Homo sapiens: one gene and its partner. The protein of the gene in region 2 purifies or fractionates together with the protein of the main gene of each other region. This does not show direct contact. Each region holds a gene or a part of one and is shown on either strand. Other genes may lie near its edges.

Region 1 (3,500 bases), on a different chromosome or scaffold from region 2:
AGAGAAAACAAGGTTTTCATTTAAGTCTGACAGATACTATACACAGAATGCTTGGCGTCTCTAGCTCATTACTTGGCCCAGGGTAGATTTTTATATAGACCAAATTGATTTAAATGACCAGTCAGGAAAATGCAATTTAATTATATATATATTTTACAATGCAGAAATGCAGGGCTGGTTGTCTAAATTAAATGCCATTCTTATTGCTTTATAGGACCTGATGTATTTCCTTCTGGAATATTTTGTTTAGAAGGTTATTCTTTACTTTGCCTAGCTTTCTCCAGTCTGTGTTTTTCGCCAGGATTCTTCCTCTGGCCTACCTAGATCATTGCTAACAACAAAAACAAGTTGTTTTTTTTTTCTTAATATTTTCTTTTAGGTTCAGGGGTACACGTGCAGGTTTGTTATATAGCCAAAAACAAGGCTTTTGTTCGTGTTTTTCTCAAAGGGAAATGCATGGAAACTTTGTTCAATTCAATGTTGTATGATATTGCTCAGTTATTTAACCTTTTTAGTCTGGATATCTTCACTTATAAAATGGGAATAATAATAGTGGCCAACTCTATTGACTGCCTACCCACTAACCCCCTCTTCCTTGCTAATAGAACCAGACCCTTTTGCTGGGGTCTGATGACTTTGTTCTTCAGCGAGCCTGGGCTGCTCCATGGCCTCGGGAGGAAACTCTTAAATTAGCCAATCACAGTGGTTCTGTCTGCCTACTTACTCATACATATAGCATGTGAGTTGTGAGTGGAAATTCCACTGGACACAGATTTTCTGTGACTTTAAAAAGAGCCGCGGCAGGGCAAGGTAGCTCAGGCCTGTAATCCCAGCACTTTGGGAGGCCGAGGTGGGTGGATCTATTGTGCTCAGGAGTTCAAGACCAGTCTGGGTAACACGGTGAAACCCCATCTTTACTCAAATACAAAAATTAGCTGGGCATGGTGGCACACACTTGTGGTCCCAGCTACTCAGGAGGCTGAGGTGAAAGGATCAGCCTCCCACCTGCAGGCTGAGGCTGCAATGAGTCATGATCATGCCACTGCACCCCAGCCTGGGTGACAGACCGAGGCCCTGTTTCAACAAACCAGAAAGAGCCACATAAGAAATCTGCTGCACCTTGATATGCCTCTACGTATTGAAATATGCCTATAATTCCAAAATTGTAGACGCCATGTCCACACAGTGAGGGGAAATCAACCTGCTGAAGGTGTCACAGTGGGAGGAAGGGAAGAATCCAGGTTGCTAAGGACATTATCCAGCTACCACATAAGTAACTCTGAAGCTACCCTCCTATCAGAGGTCTTGCGATCAATTTCCTATTGCTTACGCCATTTTAGTAGGACATTCCTTTATCAGCAGCCAGAAATATCCTGATAGAAAAATATTGTCCTTATTTCGTAGGGTTATTTTTAAAACTAGCTAAAGTATCCAGCACAAACTGAATGCCTAACAAATGTTCATTCTCAACTTAATTCTTGACATATGTTAGTCTTCACTTATTCAAATTAGTTAGTGCTTTCTTTACTCTGTGTGGTCTGAATGACTCCTCTAGGAGGCTTTCCCTGGTTCCCCAAAACAGGAATAAGGGCAGAAGTCATTGCTTTCTCCTCTTTATTCAAATAAAGATAATATCAAGTACCTAAGGTTATTTTAAACAATAAGAATGGTATTTAATTCAGACAAGTAGTGTAGTGCTGATTGCAGTGTAGAGAAAAAAATGTAATCAAACAGAGTAGTCTTCCTGACTGTGTAAATCAATTTGAACTAAATAAAATCCAACCCAGATCAAGTAATCAACACAGCAGCCAAGTGTTCTGCATTTGGAGTCTACAAAGTTTATCGAAAAGCTGCTTTCTGTAGGGAAAAAGACATAGTTTGTAGATTACAGAACATGTATGTGAAGAAGGACACATTTCCTCTGAAATCTCACCTCATTCTTATTTCAGAAAGGCACCTGCACCTTCTGCTCAAAACCTTCTCCACAAGCCCCCTTCGCCCCAATATCTTTACATGGCTGAATCCTCAGCATCATTTTGGTCTCAACTCAAATGTCACCTCTTCAGAGAGGCCTTCAGGGATTACTCAACAAAGTAATCTCCCAATTACCCCTGCCAGCATAGGCACAGTCCCACCATTCACCCTGTTTCTACTTCAATCCATCAAAGCACTCACTACTACTTGACATTTTCTTTTATTGTAAGTCATTTCTGTCAATGGTTCCAATCCTGGTTGATTCTGATTTAATTACTCTGAGGTGAGGTTGGGACATGATATTTTTTTCAAACTACCCTCTCAGTGATTTCTAATGTGCAGTTAGACCTAAAAACCACTGGTTTATGTGTTTACTGAGTCTCTCTCAATACTCGAATGTAAGTTTCAAGAAAACAACCGACCAGTTTTGTTCATCCTAGTCTCCCTGGCATCTTGACGAGCACATGGCACATTGCAGACATTAGGACTTTGAACACATCGATTAATTCTATTGTAATTATATTTCTGTATTTGTCTGTTTTCCCCATGAGTTTGTGAGCTCTTAGAGGACAAGTACTATGTCTAGCCCACTCTGCATCAAAAAATGAGTCACTCAAGAATGTTCATTAAATAAATGAATGATAAACAAACTGCATTGTGTGGTATAAGGAAGACAAAGATGAAACCAGATGTGACCGCTGTCCTCAAAGAGCTTGGAGTGTGGTCAAAAAAAAAAATTATGCAGATTGCTGTTATACACACTAGAATGAGCTAGATGCTGTGATGAAAGAACAAAAGATTTCAGAGGAGCATTGTTTTTTTATTGGGGAAAAAAGGGAAGAAACCAAGGGAGGCTTCATGAAAGAGGCAGCATTTGAACTGAGCTTTACAGGACAGATGGAATTTGGTTATTCAGAGAAGTAAGACTGTGGGGACAAAGTGTGGAAGGGGAAGCAGGAACTAACTTATCCTAGGCGGAGAGAAAAGAACTCAAAAAACAAGTCAGCCCAGCTGGAGGTTAGGAGGGCCTCAACTAAGACACCGGCTATAAACATGGAAAAGAGTCAGTATCAAGATATTTTCCCAATCACAATTGCAAGGAGCCATGCAACTTCCTGCAACTAGAGGTGCTTGGTGAGGAAGACAGTGAAGTTGAATTGTCATAACTGAGGTAATGATAAATGGGGTGTCATTAACAATTATGAAATCAGGTGAGGAGCTGGTTTTGAGGAGTGGGAAAGGTGATGGTGAGCACAGTTTTGGACATGTGAGTTTCATTTTCTGTGGGTTGGATGTTCTGGTGAATTTGCAGGCAGCTTGCTGTACAAGCTGAGAGAGGAGGTGAATGATTAGGATGCTTCATCAGATTTGGGACTGACCCACACAGCAACAGTGACTAAAATCACAGGACAGAATTTGATTAGGGAGAGGGAGAAATTAAATGGCCAAAGACTCGTATCTTGAGAACACTCATATTTGGGGAGCAGGAACTGAAGTTAGTGAAGTTGGAGCCCGCAGAGAGGTAG
Region 2 (3,910 bases):
TCTTTGTTCAAGGAGAAGCTATGATAAGAGGGACCTGGGCTTTGCAATTATGTGTTCAGTGTAGGCTTGGGCCTTGATGAAGCAGACAAGCAAGCTCAGGGAGGAAGGGCAGGGAGAGCATACGAGCTAAGGCTCTGGACAGGACTTATGCAAACCCAAGGCTGCCCCTTACTTGCAGTGATGTTCTTCTGGCTTGTGAGAACCCAGTCTCAATTTCTTTTTCTGTAGAATGGGGTAATAATAGTACCTACCTCAGGGGGAGGTTGTGCAGATCAAACAAGATAATACATGGAAAGTTTAGCCCAGTGTCTGAAACATAATAAGGGCAACTTGCTACTATAATAATATTACTATTATTACAGGGTCTCACTCTGTCACCCAGATTAGAGTGCAGTGGTGCAATTATAGCTTACTGCAACCTTGATCTCCTAGGCTCAAGCAATCCTCCTGTCTCACCCTCCTGAGTAGCTGGGACTACACGTGCATGCTACCATGTCTGGCTAATTTTTTTTTTTTTTGGTAGAGATGGGGTCTCTCTATGTTCCTCAGGCTGGTCTTGAACTCCTGAGCTCAAGCAATCCTCCCACTTTGGCCTCCCAAAGTGCTGGGTTTACAGGCATGAACTACTGTGCCTGGCCTTATAATTACTATTACTGATACTTAATAGGACCCACAGTGGAGGACAGACATGCAGGGCTCGCGAGCTCTGAGCCTCACACTATCATGGAGACTCTGACCTGCAGGGTCTCACTCAGAGGAGTTAATCAGGATGGGTCCCAGTCATCCCCACGTTTTTATTTTTAGAGACAAGTCTTCTCTATGTTGCCCAGGCCGGTCTTGAACTCCTGGGCTCGAGCGATCCTCCCACTTTGTCCTCCCAAAGCGTTGGGATTACAGGTGTGAGCCACAGCACCTGGCCCATTCCCAGGTTATACAAAAATCAGGTGCAAGTCCTGGGGGCAATTCAGCCCCAGAGAAGCCTGGGCAATATGAGTGTTGGTAGTTGTTGGGGGTGGTAGTCGGGATGGGTGTTGAACATCTGTGATATTACCATATCTGTATAATAGAATGGCTTTCATCCATGATTCCTGGCTGCTATATCTCTTGTAAGAGTCTTTTGTTATAATGTTGGGGCATTTTAGGCCTCAGGAGCGGGCCTCATGAAACAGAATCACTCTCTCTGACCTTCTCCTGTCCTTTCTCACCTGCTCAAGGCAGGACTGTAATCTGATGTAGGTCAAAAGACCTTTATCACAGAGAGAAAGTCTTGCCCCATACCCTGGAGGAAGGAATGCTACAGAGAGGCCAAGAAAATTCTGAGCAGAAAGGCCTTGCTGGGTTTAGATCATGCATTTTTGTCCAATCACATTTCTACACAGTTGTCAGTCATGCCTCGTGTAATGAAGCCTCCATAAAAACTCAAAAGAACAGGGTATGAAGATCTTCTGGGTAGCTGAACACGTGAAGGTTCCTGGAGCATGGGGCCCAGGGAGGCAGGGAAGCTCCACACCCCTTCACCCGTCCTCGCTCTGTGCATCTCTTCATTCATGTCCTTGGTAATAAGCTGGTAAATGTGTTTCCCTGGGTTCCGTGAGCCCCTCTAGCAAATTAATTCAACCCAAAGCAGGATCCTGGGAGTCCCAACTTGAAGCTGGCTGGTCAGAAGTTCCAGAGGCCTGACTTATGACTGGTATCTGAGGGTAGGGTGGGGGTCAGGGGGAGCCTTGGGGACTGAGCCCTCAACCTGTGGGATCTGAAGCTATCTCTAGATATGTAGCATTGGATTTGAACTGGAGGCACCCAGCGGGTGCCTGCTGCTCGTTGGTGGGGAAAACCCCACACACATTTGGTCACAGAAGTCTTCTGCGTTGACTGTTGTGTTGGTGCAAGAGCACAGGAAAAACATGGTTAGAGGATTTTTCCAAACAGCATCCTGCTGTAGTATAAGGGAGGAGACCTGATAAACTATCAGAGGCTGTTCTGATGTCAGGAACACAGCCATGAAATTGTTTAACACGTTTTCATGTGGAGGAGGAGGGAAAGAGATACTCTTTTCTATGTGACTTAAATGGCAGGAGTAGGATCAAAGGGTGGGGACAACAGGAGGCCAGATTGTGATTCATTTCCGGGAAAAATAACACAACATTTAAGAGTTTTAAATAGTGGCCTGGGTTTCCTAATGTGACTGAACTCTTCATTGCTGAAGTGTGCAAGTAGAAGTGAAATGCAGTGACATGGTCGTACTCATCAGGAGAGGTCTGATATTGAAACAGAGCCTGTAATGGGCTTTGGGGGACAGAAACCCTTCTTAGTTTGCTCTGGCAGCTGATGGTGGGTTACCTCATCCTAAAGCAGTCATCTTTAGGTGCACAGACAACTGTATGGTGGCTCTCTGTGGCAGAATTCTGTGAGCCCCCCAAAGGGCGGCCAGATCTAGCAAATAAAAATCCAGAATGTCCAGTCAAATTTGAGTTTCAGATAATGGGTTCTTTTTTAGTATAAGTATATTCAAGTATTACTTGGGCTAAACTTTTACTGAAAATATGATTGGTTGTTGATCTGAAGTCTGAATTTAACTGGGCATCCCATATCTAATCTGGCAACCCTATGTCTCACTTCTTCCTTGCAGCTGTCCAGCTAGAGACGACGTTTCCCAGCCTCTCCTCTCACTAGGTGTGCTCATGTCAGTTTTTGTTGATGTGACTAGGGCAGAACCAAAATATGCACAATTTTTGGTGTTACTGCTTAAAAGGCAATCCCTCATGTGGACTTTCTATCTCTTCCCCTCCTGACACTGTGAACAGGACATGCTGTCCACCCAGCTCTCCCGCTATGAATGAAGAGAACACCCTGGAGAGTGGGGAAAACCAGAGGGCAGGAACCAAGCCCAGCAATGACCTTGGGGAGCAGAGCTGCCCCAACCGGGCCCTCTCTTTTCACGGCCATTAGGTAAAAGGGAAATAAACATATTTTCTCTGGGCCACTTTATTTTGGGGCCTTGTTTAGCCAGCATTGTAACCAATGTACTTTCCTTGGTCCCTTTCCTGTCCCCCTCCCTAATCAGAATTCCTCTATTAAAGCAACACACAGCCTGCAGAGCACGGGTTCAGGCATACCTCCAACCCAAAGGGAGGGGTAGAGGAGGGGAGGTAATTTGTTTTCCCTTCCCTGGTCTACAAGCCAAGCCTGGCTTGGGCACAAGGCAATCTGGCTATGGTCTCTCTGGAATATTCAAGAACCAGTTGAGAACCCTCAGGACAAAGGCGAGGTCTGCTGCAGCACTCTCTCTTGAAAAGTTTCTTTTCACTTTCTCTTCTCTTGTACATCACATAGATGTGGTGGTTGCTGGGTTGTGCTGGGAGAGTGAAAAACTGAGAGGGAGAGAGACACAGATAAAGAGACACTGACGTAGGAAGCTATGATAATCCAGAAGCTCACAAATCTCCCTGAGTTCCTTTCTGTCTGGGGATGGCTTGAATCAGGTGTTGCTGGCCTCCAAGAGCCTGGGTGAGGTGGGCAATAAGCTCATGTTGGATTCTGACAAATGCCTCTGTGTGGTTTATGTCACCCCTGGCTCTCGCAGCTGCAACTGCAGCTGATGAGACTGCACGGTCATGCTGCAGGGATGGTCTAGAGGAGCCTGAGAGTCCCCGCACAGGGTTAGAGGGGCTTCAGTGGCAGACAGGGCCCAGCTACCAGATGCAGAGGGAGGTACCTCTGTGATCTTCATTCGCAGGCGATGGTTTTCTGACTGTAGGCCCTCCAGGCGGGATGTGCTGGCTTGGTTCACACTGGTGACCGAGGTGGACGTTTTAGAATCTTCTTTCTTCTGATTCTGAGTGAACTGGAATCGCCTGTTCTGCGTTGCTGCATCTGGGTTTGTTCTCAGGGTGATGAGCTGAAAGGACAA

The links. The genes of interacting proteins can lie anywhere in the genome.
Region 1: the proteins of GABBR2 (region 2) and GNG2 fractionate together in Homo sapiens (co-fractionation; one study listed by IntAct). This does not show direct contact.

The regions. Positions count from the first base shown.
Region 1 is NC_000014.9:51,867,112-51,870,611, reverse strand, and holds part of GNG2 (guanine nucleotide-binding protein G(I)/G(S)/G(O) subunit gamma-2 precursor), read right to left. Parts: intron 1-3,500. UniProt on the Homo sapiens protein: Guanine nucleotide-binding proteins (G proteins) are involved as a modulator or transducer in various transmembrane signaling systems.
Region 2 is NC_000009.12:98,299,526-98,303,435, forward strand, and holds part of GABBR2 (gamma-aminobutyric acid type B receptor subunit 2 precursor), read right to left. Parts: intron 3,899-3,910; coding exon 3,716-3,898; intron 1-3,715. UniProt on the Homo sapiens protein: Component of a heterodimeric G-protein coupled receptor for GABA, formed by GABBR1 and GABBR2. Within the heterodimeric GABA receptor, only GABBR1 seems to bind agonists, while GABBR2 mediates coupling to G proteins.